Homo sapiens: one gene and its partners. The protein of the gene in region 3 purifies or fractionates together with the protein of the main gene of each other region. This does not show direct contact. Each region holds a gene or a part of one and is shown on either strand. Other genes may lie near its edges.

Region 1 (3,657 bases), on a different chromosome or scaffold from region 3:
CATATTCAAATGTACAATAACACATAGCAAAGTTAAATATAGAAGATGGTCTAGCCACTTTTTTTCACATATAGGCAGAACAACAGAAGAAGACAGGATGTCTTGTTCTGGTCCACCACTAATGGTGAATTACCTCTAGCAAATCTCTTCATCTCTCTCTCTCATCTTTTCCATTAAAAGGGGAAAGAGTATGGAATGATACATGGCCTGCCTATTTCATTGGTCTATTATAAGTATCAGACATATGAATACTTATGAAAATATATGGAAAAGTTATGAAGTACTCTACACAATAAATAATTCTCTTTTATTAGCACGGATAACTGACTTGTCTAAATATCTACTGTAGCTCCCCAAAAGTGATAATATATTTTAGAGCAAATGATTCCTAAAATATATTAAAGAATAAACAGGGCAGGATATGGAATGACAAATACAATAAAAATGGCTTTTTCCTAATTTTTGATAGAAAAATATTTAAAAAATAAACTTCTCCAGCAGTAACTACAGTATATAAAGTGCAGATTCAAGGATATTATGGTGAATATCTACAGTTATCTAGACTCTAAGATACTTCAGATATTCCTCAGCTATTTCAATACCACAAGGATAATCCAGGATGACTTATCAATATCACACATGTCAATAGCAGGTTGTGATGTAAATGAGCAAATTCTTTCCAACCATCTCAGTTCAGTTTTATTATAGCATTTATTAAACCAAAATAAAAACATGGTGAAGAATGATTTGTCACACCATTTATTAGAGTTGATGGAGTGTAGACAGTCTTTTCAATAAGGCTTTAACACACTGTTATGCACCATAGTGCATTAGTAATGAAAAGAAATGCATGAGACTTACATCAGCCTTTCCCCCAAGTCATTCTGACATTAAATTCAAAATCAATTTTACCCTATATGGCAAGAGTTCAGAAATAAATGTTAATTTCTTTGCTGTTCACCAAAACTTAAGTTTATAATTCAAAGTAACAACAGAAATCCTTCCTATTCTACTTAATTTAATAATCATACTTTTTTTGGAGAAGGGTTCAAAGTGGGAAGCAAATGCAACCAGAAGTTAAAAAATTGTGTTTCAGTTTGTATCTGACAAAAGGATGGGATCTAATTTTCTCTCTGATTAAAAGAACACAAAGAACAGCCACAGAATGTAAATCGTGTGTTGAGTGTTTGAATTTCTCTTCCAATACCTGAGTATCTGAATAGAACTAATTCACTCTGGAAAAGGTATTAAATAATTGAGCATCATTGTGCCCGAATGAGGGCTAATTGTCAAACGTTGAAGAAAAATAAACATATTCTACAATGATAGGGTCAACTCACTCACTCAGGAACTTCAATCAAGCATTTTACATTCAAATGACAGAAACCAAGTATGTAAAGAATGACCTACCGCCAACAAGGAATCCTGATAGACACAAGCACCTGTGGGGAAAAACAAAACAAGAATTAAAAGGGATGCATAATAAACCAATAGGCACTGCCCCAGCAAGCTTGCTGCTAAAACTGCATCTATATGCATCATAACCAGGAAAATGAGCTTCTTCCAAAATCTTAAAAGCTTCAGCATTCTTCCCCTGGGGAAATAACCCCATACACCAAAACAACATTCCTTGGACACACATGAGGAAAAGCATCATTAAAACTTATGACTTGAATTTTAAGATAAATGTGTTTATAACGACATGCTATAAATACAGTAAATATTTTTCTTGGTGATAAGTCAGCAAAGCCTCCATAATCCAGTCCCATTTACTTATCCAGGCTTCCCTGCCACTGTTTGCTTACACTAAGCCTCCAGTCCAACCCAAGAGGCCAACTTAGAATCCTGTAATATATTTACATGTCTCAATGCCTTTGCTCATTTTCATTTTCTACAGGAGATGTACTTTGTCTAGTCAAGCTCTTTGAACTTGATCCCATCTCCTTTGTGAAACTTCTGCCCACCAGATTATGCTCCTCTGAGCTCCTAGCATTTTGTGCCTACATCCTCCATTTGTGAATTTATTCTTGTGTATTTCCTTTCTAAGGATGTTGAAATGTTGTATTTACCCCACTACATTATATATATGTGTGTGTGTACTACATATAGAGAGAATATATACACTATATATACCATTACATATATACTATTACATATATAGTATATACATATATATACACATGTATACCCACTATATACTATATACCATATATAGTACATATATAGTATATACACATATATACACATATATATACATATATACCCACTATATACTATATATAGTATATATATAATATATAGTATAAATAGCATATGTAGTATTTAGTGTGTGTGTGTGTATGTATATATATATATATATATATATATACACTATAAAACTGAAATCTTAACTTAAAAAAAATATAGACACATTCCCAACCAATTTTTGAGCTGCACAACAGGTCTTGATTTAACTTAGAAAGAGATGGGCAGTGTGCTGTCACCTACTCTCTCAGAAACTGAGTCTGCAAAACACATTTGAACAGTATATACACACCAAGGTGAAGCATATCTTAACAATGCTCCACACAGTTGGTTTCTAAAGAGAGAAGGACATTATTTTACCACAGTGCTTACCTCTAATGGATCATTTATGAAGTCCCAATAATATTAACTTCTCAGGAAAGAATTGGTCTACCTTCTCCTCCAGTAATGGAATTAAGAACAATCTTTAAAAAAACTGAGATGACTATTTACACTTAGGTTTGAATCAAAGATCTCTGTGGGCAAATTTATTGAAATAATTTTTATGTCCCTGATATTCTTTTTTTTTTTCTTGGTATACAACAATTTTATTGGTGTTTTAATATAATTCACCCAGAATATGAAGGCATCACATTAGCTAAGTACAAGGCATATGTATAAGCAAAAATTATAAATTTATGACACCCTTGTGCCTTTCTCCTAATGACATTTCCAACTTTTAATGGTTTGTATTTCTTCCTCTGCAGACATAGGATAATTAATATAAATATGTCATTTTTGAGTTTATATTTTACACAAACTTATTATTTTACTTTAAAATAGTTTCTAGCCATGGCATTAATATTTATTAAAATTTCTGTACATATGAAAAAAGGAATTTATTTCTATACATATGAAAGAAAGGAATAGGGAGTGTCTATAAATGAATGATTTTATAGACACTCCCTATTTTTTTATTTTATTTATTTATTTATTTTTATTATTATTCTTTAAGTTCTAATAAGAATAACTTGAGATAAAACCTTGAAGGAAAATTCTTCTTAATTGACTACTTTTTCCTTAAGAAATCTTGTTCCAAGACTTAGTAGTTCAGTCTATGGTATGTTATAAGAAAGGAAATATATATATGTGTACATATGTATGTGTGTGATGTGTGTACTAAAATAATTCTATATATCTCAAATAAATACATATGAACACAATTCACTTTCTAAATTACTTATATGGACATATTTAATTATTTCTGGTGTTTAGAAAATTTAGAATAAAGATCATCATCACTTAGGTACAATTTAACAAAATTTAAACTTTAGATTAAACAAAACTTAACTTTTAGAAAAAACACAAACAAAATTTAATCTTTAAAATAAGACTATCCTCAAATAATTTTATTGCTCTCCACAGCATTACCTT
Region 2 (3,657 bases), on a different chromosome or scaffold from region 3:
AAATTCAGGCCAACCAGGAAGCCTTCACAAAGGCTGGCACTGACCTTCCCTTTGTCAGTTTGGGGTCAGTTCTATCTGGGCGAAGGTCTCAGACTGATCGTAGTCCGACATAGAGACCGGAAACGAGCCTCAAACAGTCTGAAGGGAGCAAACGGCATTCTTGCAGATGCTTACTACTTCAGTGAAGCTTCGAATGACTCAGAGAGGTCATCACGCCCAGTCATCTTCAAATTTTTCTGCACATTAGACTGCACTGGGGAGCCTTAAAACAATCCCAGTGCCAGTCCACACCCCTTCCACACCAATTACAACGGACTCTCCAGGACCCGGGCAGCCATAGTGTTTACCACTTACCTCGTGATTCTTATGTACAACCACACTTGAGAACTGGGGATCTAGTCCTGGGCTTCTCATACTTGCCATGTGAAAGCATCACCTGGGGATCCTGCTGCAATGCACATTCTGATTCAGTAGGTCTGGGGTGCCGCCCAAGATTTTGTATTTCTAACAAGCTCCCAGGGGATGCCGGTCCACGGACCACTCTCTGAGGGGTAAGGCTCCTAATTCAACTGACTAACTCAACTCAGGTTAACTACCTGGATGCTTTTTCAGAGGGTGGTAGGAAGCCTGGGATTACCCAACCACTGATCAAGGGGTAAAGAGCAATCTGCTCTGTATGAGAGAAACTCAGGTTCCGAGGAGCATTCTTGCCTTTTGGGCTGCAGTCATCACTTGCTGTTCATAGATGTCAAGGTTCTGGTTCATGAGCTCCAAGGCCTCTTGGCGGCTGATGAGAGCCAGAGGGTTCAGACTCAGGATGGATGGATGCTCATACACGGCAGCCACATAATATTCAGCCTCGTGATGGTCAGCCACGCTCTCCTCCCCGGTGTGGGCTCCCAGGGCAACCACGTAACAGCCGCAGAGGAAAAGAGCAAGCTTACTTCTGGCTCCAGACATAATGCAGACCACAAATCTGGAATGTAATGGGGCAAGGGGAAAACAGCTGAATAAAGAATCCTGCCAAGAATTTAACGTTTGCAGCTGTGATTTATTAATCCCAGCAATTAAACTCACTCGCAGTGATACTGCGGCTCAAAGAGTTTGTTTCATGTTCCTAATAAAAGAGTATGTGTTTCTCTCCAAACACGTAGCAAGCCACATTTAAAATGGCTCACTGTGTTAATAGTCTGGTTTTAGAACATTTCCAAAACAGACTCAACGTTTGCTATGATTTTCTTACCCAGTGTTCAGCAAGACTGTAGTGCGTCACTACCCACTTTTCTAGCTGTGCACTTAGATTTTAAGCAGTAGTAACTATCCAGATTATTTGACATAATTCTGTGATATATTTCACACTCTACCCTCTGCCCTCTATCCATACTACAGGTCAGCCATCCGTAATGTCTGTGATTGTCATGACCCTAATAACACAGCTTGGCTTTCCTGGCCATCAAAACCTAATGAATTACAATTCTCCCTGCATTTCTTTGGTTAGTAATAAATACTATGGATAACTCTCCCTTTATTCAGCACAAAATTATTTATTTGGTGCCAAGAAACTGCTGACTTCTACATAAATGCCAATAGCTACTTTCTTTTATAGACAAGCAAAGTATCCCAATAAAAGCATGTTATTTTTTCTCCTTGAACTTGAGAATCGCCATTGCACATTATCACTTTCTTAACCCCATCTCTGTGACTCCAAAACTCTTGCTCAAAAGCCTACTCATTTGGAAATAAAATCCTTTTTGCAGTGATAAAATGCAATTTTCTAGAAAATAAACTACAAATTTCCAGAGAGTAAACTCAGCTTCATAGCTTCTACCAGAAAAGACTAGAAATAAATGATACTTCTGTGTGTCTCCTCCTTCCTCCCAGAATAGGAATGTTTCTTTCTAAACAGTGTGCATTACTGTTTTAGAGTAAATAGTCCAATTCTGCCTTTAAAAATCAGCCTGGCCTCCCAGCTAAAGCGTCCTCTCAGGCAGAGATTTACTGGGTAGTGTGCCAAGGCCAGGCCACCTGCCCATGGAGATGTCCTGGGGCTGAACAACTGCCCAGGAATCCGGATTAAAAGTCAAGATAACAAAGACAAATCAAAGAATCATATTGCTGCCCTTTAAAAAGAAAATGACACCCTGTCCAAGTCTCAACTCATAACTCCTGTGTTTGCATTTTAAAACCAAACTCCCCAGGCTACAAATTTCTTTATTTTTTATCAAAAGTTCCAGAAACAAACCATAGCTCTTTTCGTCAACAGACTAAGAACTAGAAATGCTCATCTTGGCAAAATTAAATATTCCTCAGAATGAGAAGTATTCTCCCACCCCAACCCGGTTCCATCTCAAACTGTTATTTCTTTCCCCAGGGAAATGTACCATCCAAACACCAAACCCCAGGATTTGTTGCCATTCATCTGGGACACTGTAAACAATGTTTTAAGATAAGAACAAGGAGTCTTTGAGTGAGCAGTCATGAGTTTTTGAGTAGAAACAAAAGTATAATTGATAAGCTTTCTTATCTGAATTTTGCCTCTAAAGACAAGCAAGGAATAATTTAAAATGTCTCAGAAACCCATTTTTCCATTCCATCTCTGGTTTCACAATGATAACAGAGAGTGATTTTGGGGGCAAACTTTCATCTTCAAAGTCATACTGACAATATTTCTGAAGTATAACGCAAAGGCCTCACTAAGAGGTATGGAAACTGAGGCCAGGAGAGGAGGGTATGAACCAGTCCCCAGTGGGGGCAAGTGAGGAGTGCCTGGGGCCAAGAGTGGCATTCACATTACATCTCTTTCTCAACTGAGAGCTGGGTACCACCGATGTCGGGGTACAGAACATTTGTTTATGTCTAAAGGACTTGCAATCCAGCAAAACAAGGAAACCGCAAAATCCGCAAGGTATCACATTTCTTTCTATCTGGAGAAGATAAAATTTATTTTACAAAAGGAGCCCGGTAGGAGAGCTCTAAGTGGCAATCATTTGTGTGTGAACAAAGGTAGGTCGATAATAAGAGGTTATGCAGATTCAACCAGGTATTCATGCTTGAAAGAACCAAGCTTAATGAGGTAGAAGAGAATGAGTAATTACAATAAAAATAGGTCTAGTCAGCCGGCCCTCAGTATCCATTGTTTCTGCATCCATGGATTCCACCAACCTTGGATTGAAATTACTGGGGTGGGAGGGGGAGGAGGGAGCCCAATAAAAATAATAGCACAACAATAAAAAATAATAGCAATTTAAAAAATACAGTATAACAATTATTTATATAGCATTTAGTTTGTATTAGGTAGTGTAAGGGATCTAGAGATGATTTAAAGTGTACAGGAGGAAGTGTTTAGGTTACATGTAAATTCTACACCATTTGATATAAGGGACTTGAGCATCTGAGGGTTTCGGTATCCACGGGGTCCTGGAACCAGTCCCAACAGATACTGAGGGACAACTGTACATCAATTTGCCCTTCCCAAAGAAACATTTTACCCAAATTAGCAAATGCTGCTTTTCTCTCTTTGGCATCACACATACCTTCTCAGGAAAAAGTAAATAGGGCCTGTGGCAAGGACTCTGAAGGGTTCAGCAGGCAGCAGCGGGAGGTGCTCAGTTGTAAAGTGGCAGGACTAGAGGTAGGGCTGGAGGGGCCCAGGCATCC
Region 3 (3,757 bases):
TAAAACAATTATATATTATGACTTAGGTAAAGTATTAACATGTTTGAGCCATGTGTAAACATCCAGCAGTTATTAGTAACCACCTAATCTCTAAAAGAGCAAAAATTAAAGACATGCGGCCAGGCGCAGTGGCTCACGCCTGTAATCCCAGCACTTTGGGAGGCTGAGGTGGGCAGATCACGAGGTCAGGAGTTTGAGACCAGCCTGACCAGCATGGTGAAAACTGGTCTCTACTAAAAATACAAAAATTAGCTGGGCGTGGTGGTGGGCGCCTGTAATCCCCGCTACTCAGGAGGCTGAGGCAGGAGAATCGCTTGAACTCAGGAGGCAGAGGTTGCAGTGAGCCAAGATCGCGCCACTGCAATCTAGTCTGAGTGACAGAGTGAGACTCTGTCTCAAAAAGAAAAAAAAAATAAAGATATGCATAATGAAAAAAACAAAAGATATTTGTTTCACGTATACTATGTATGTTGCCCTTTTTGCAAGAAATAGAAGACTTCAGTCTTTCTTCTTCTTTCTATCTGATGTCTAATCCCAAGGAAGCATGTTTAAAAAATTACTTATCAATTAAAATTCCATATTCTTACAGAAATGACTGGGCTCAGGTACCTTTGAGTCCAAATTTCTTCTCTGATCCTTGATAGCTGGATGACCTTGGACAAGTTTCTTCATCTTTCCTAGCCTCTGTTTCCTCATTCATAAAATTAGGGTAATAACACATTCCTAATAGATTTTCTGTGAGAATTACATGAAATAACCTATGTGAAATGCCTAAAACAGATCCCAACATGTAGAAGCTCAGTAGATGAAGTTATTTATTATTATTAAACATTGTCATGTTTTCCTGAATACTGACAATTTGAAATATTTAACTTGTTCCTTAAAATGAATCTGGAAAGACCTTAAAGAGGCTAATTTCCAGCCATGATCTAAAAAACAAACAGAGCCCCAATTGAACTTTAGATTTTTACAAATATTATACAGAAGACTCCAAATTTTGTCCTTCTTAAATGCACCAAGATAACACAACATCCTTTGTTAGAGGTGGAAAATAAACAGCTTCGTAGGAAACAAGACTTTATCAAGCAATAATTTAGAGATTTGTGTCCTTTTTTTATTTTATCTCTTTTATTAAAAAGAGAAAAAGCCATTCTTGATTCAGAAATATTTCTCAGATCATTATAGAATAACAATCAGGACTCTCCACCTTTTATTTTCATTGCTGGGTTGTAAAACATGGCTCTCTACAATGCCTACTCCAGAAAGATATTATTCTACAAATAAGGGCTCAGCATGACATTTATGAGAAAGCCGGGGTCCTCCTGTGCAAAGCTGATTGGTGATCAGCCAGTGGGTTCCGGGGCGCTGCAAATAAAGGCACTTTCTTCGCTGGGCTGATCAGATGCAGGACAGAGGGTTGCCTCTGCCTGTGGACCTTGGGGAAATGCGCGGCTCCTGTCCTAGCAGCACCTGTCTGTGGCCAGCAAGGAGAAACCAGACTCTCACAATGAAACATCTTCGTCCCCAGTTCCCTCTCATCTTGGCCATCTACTGCTTCTGCATGCTACAGATTCCCTCCTCAGGTAAGGGGAGCTTCCTCAGACTCCATCTGGCCTAAACTCTGAGGATGTCTGAGACAGACCTTGATCCCCCAGGGCAGCTCTGGAGGGAGTCAAGCTTTATTCTCCCCCGCCAGACCTTCTTGATTTCTGGCTGCAATTTGTTGGAACCTTTAGGAGAGGATCAAGAGAGCGAGATGCTGCAGCCTTTTACTAAAGGAGACTTTTCCCTGTGGGACTGTCTTTAAGCTGCTCCTGCCCTAGGGATGTCCTGAACATGTGTCGCTAAAACTGAAGGGAAAGGCACTTCCTGGTGTGAGTTAGGGGAAGATCCCACTTGTAGCCATTTCTGCTCCCTGGATTCTGAAGAGACGAGGACAGAGTTGGTAAAACTGAGCTTACAGCCCCAGAGAGTGGAAATTGATGGGCAGTTCGAGAAGGGCGCGGGAGGAGCGCACACTGGAAAAAGGAATCTTTCCCAAGCCTTTCCATTGGGTTTTAGAGAAGCAGGGTTCCAGAGTGTACCGGAAGCCGCTACCTCCCGGGGCCAGTGAGCTGTCCGAGGTGCTGACCGGGTGCGGGCATCGCCTCACCGACTCTGAGAACTAGCTTCTAGGGAACAGGGGTGGAGTGAGGGTCTGTGGTTGGAATCTGTTACCACCATCTTCATAGGATGCAGGGAAGTGGGCGGTGGCAGAACAACTACGGTTGGAAACACATACCATTTTACATTTTTCCATTAGAATTTTGACTTAGGGGAGTAGAAAATCTTTGGTAATATATTGACAGAGAAAACATATTTCAAACAATATGTTTGTTTGTCATGTCCTACAATGTAATCACAAAACTGGGCCTTGCAAAGGACCATGAAGGTCATCTGGTTTAACCTCTCACAGGGTGCAGGGATCCCTTCTGTAGCTTCCCGATTCTATTTAACTACTTCAATGACCCCAACTCACTGCCAGCTATGACAGCCAGGTTCTGCCTCTTTGCTCCAGTAGAGTCCTGTTTATATTACATTTTTGTAAATATGTTATTACCTTTTATGTATCTTTCTATATGTTTATACTCACCTCCCTATTTTTTCCTGTTTGACTTTATGTTCCCTGAGGGTAAGTCTTTACGTTTTATTAGCAAAGAACCTCTCCATAAATCCTTATAGGATTGGTTTGCATTACTTTGCATTATTGAATGATTCCAATCACCAAAAACTTCTTTAGGCTAAGCTTAAGTGTGATCACATGTAACTTTCTAACCGTCAGTCTTTATTCTGTTATTTGGGGGAAACACAGGATAAGACTAATATCTCTTACTTATTGAAGTTCTCAAAATAGTTGAAAGCAGTTAACATATACTTCCTAATTTTCCTGTTTCCAGAGAAAACTATGCTCAGTGCCTTTACCTCATATCTTATCATTTCAAGTCAGGCTATTATCTTTTAAGGTTTAGGCACTGTTATTTGAATATAACATAACATTGCCTTTGCTTTATCTTGGCTCAGAGAGAACGCAGGGAACAAAATACCATACAATTTTCTTTTGTCTTGTTTTTAAACATAAACTGCTCTTGAGCCATACATTCCCTGTTCCACACATTAAAAATCTAAGTGCCAGGTTTTATATTTATCCATCTAATTTCATCTTGTTAGTTTTGACCTATCCAATTGATTCTTTCGACTGCACTATAGCTATCCCACCAAGTGTTGTATCACAGGCAAGTGAGAAGAGGAGTTCATTGAAGTTAGACAAAAGGTTGACAGGGTCCAGCTGCATGCCAGCAGCCTTCCCCAGAGCCCATCCCTAGAGAGTCTGTAGCAGCAGAGAGACGGGTATCCATGTGTCTTCAAAGTTCAAAGGTGATTCTGATGTCCATCCTTTGTTGACACCATTTTCTGAGATGCCATCCTCATGAATTCTATCAAAATACAAACTAAGTTGTTACCTTGGATTTTTTTCCTCCTCTTTGCTGACTTGCTAATAGTTGTACTGAACACTCATGGTAAATTAACAACCATGCTATTTTAAATTAATCTTTGTATAAATCTCAGATTTGCTAGTGGCAAGTAGAAGTGTATTTTCTTTGTAAATCCTTTTAACAACATCAGATCAGATCTTACTTTCCCACTGACCTCTTTTGAATGGTTCTTTGGTGGTTTATTATTTTAACAGAATGTCTGTTTTTCATGATAAAGACTTTGA

Evidence for each region.
Region 1: the proteins of NMS (region 3) and FRAS1 purify together in Homo sapiens (affinity purification with mass spectrometry; one large-scale study listed by BioGRID and IntAct). This does not show direct contact.
Region 2: the proteins of NMS (region 3) and BTD purify together in Homo sapiens (affinity purification with mass spectrometry; one large-scale study listed by BioGRID and IntAct). This does not show direct contact.

Annotation. Positions count from the first base shown.
Region 1 is NC_000004.12:78,063,770-78,067,426, reverse strand, and holds part of FRAS1 (extracellular matrix organizing protein FRAS1 isoform 1 precursor), read right to left. Parts: intron 1,443-3,657; coding exon 1,411-1,442; intron 1-1,410. UniProt on the Homo sapiens protein: Involved in extracellular matrix organization. Required for the regulation of epidermal-basement membrane adhesion responsible for proper organogenesis during embryonic development. Involved in brain organization and function.
Region 2 is NC_000003.12:15,632,743-15,636,399, reverse strand, and holds part of BTD (biotinidase isoform 1 precursor), read right to left. Parts: exon of another isoform or gene 3,534-3,657; intron 977-3,533; 5' UTR 961-976; coding exon 712-960; intron 1-711. UniProt on the Homo sapiens protein: Catalytic release of biotin from biocytin, the product of biotin-dependent carboxylases degradation.
Region 3 is NC_000002.12:100,468,982-100,472,738, forward strand, and holds the start of NMS (neuromedin-S preproprotein), read left to right. Parts: upstream 1-1,500; 5' UTR 1,501-1,507; coding exon 1,508-1,583; intron 1,584-3,757. UniProt on the Homo sapiens protein: Implicated in the regulation of circadian rhythms through autocrine and/or paracrine actions.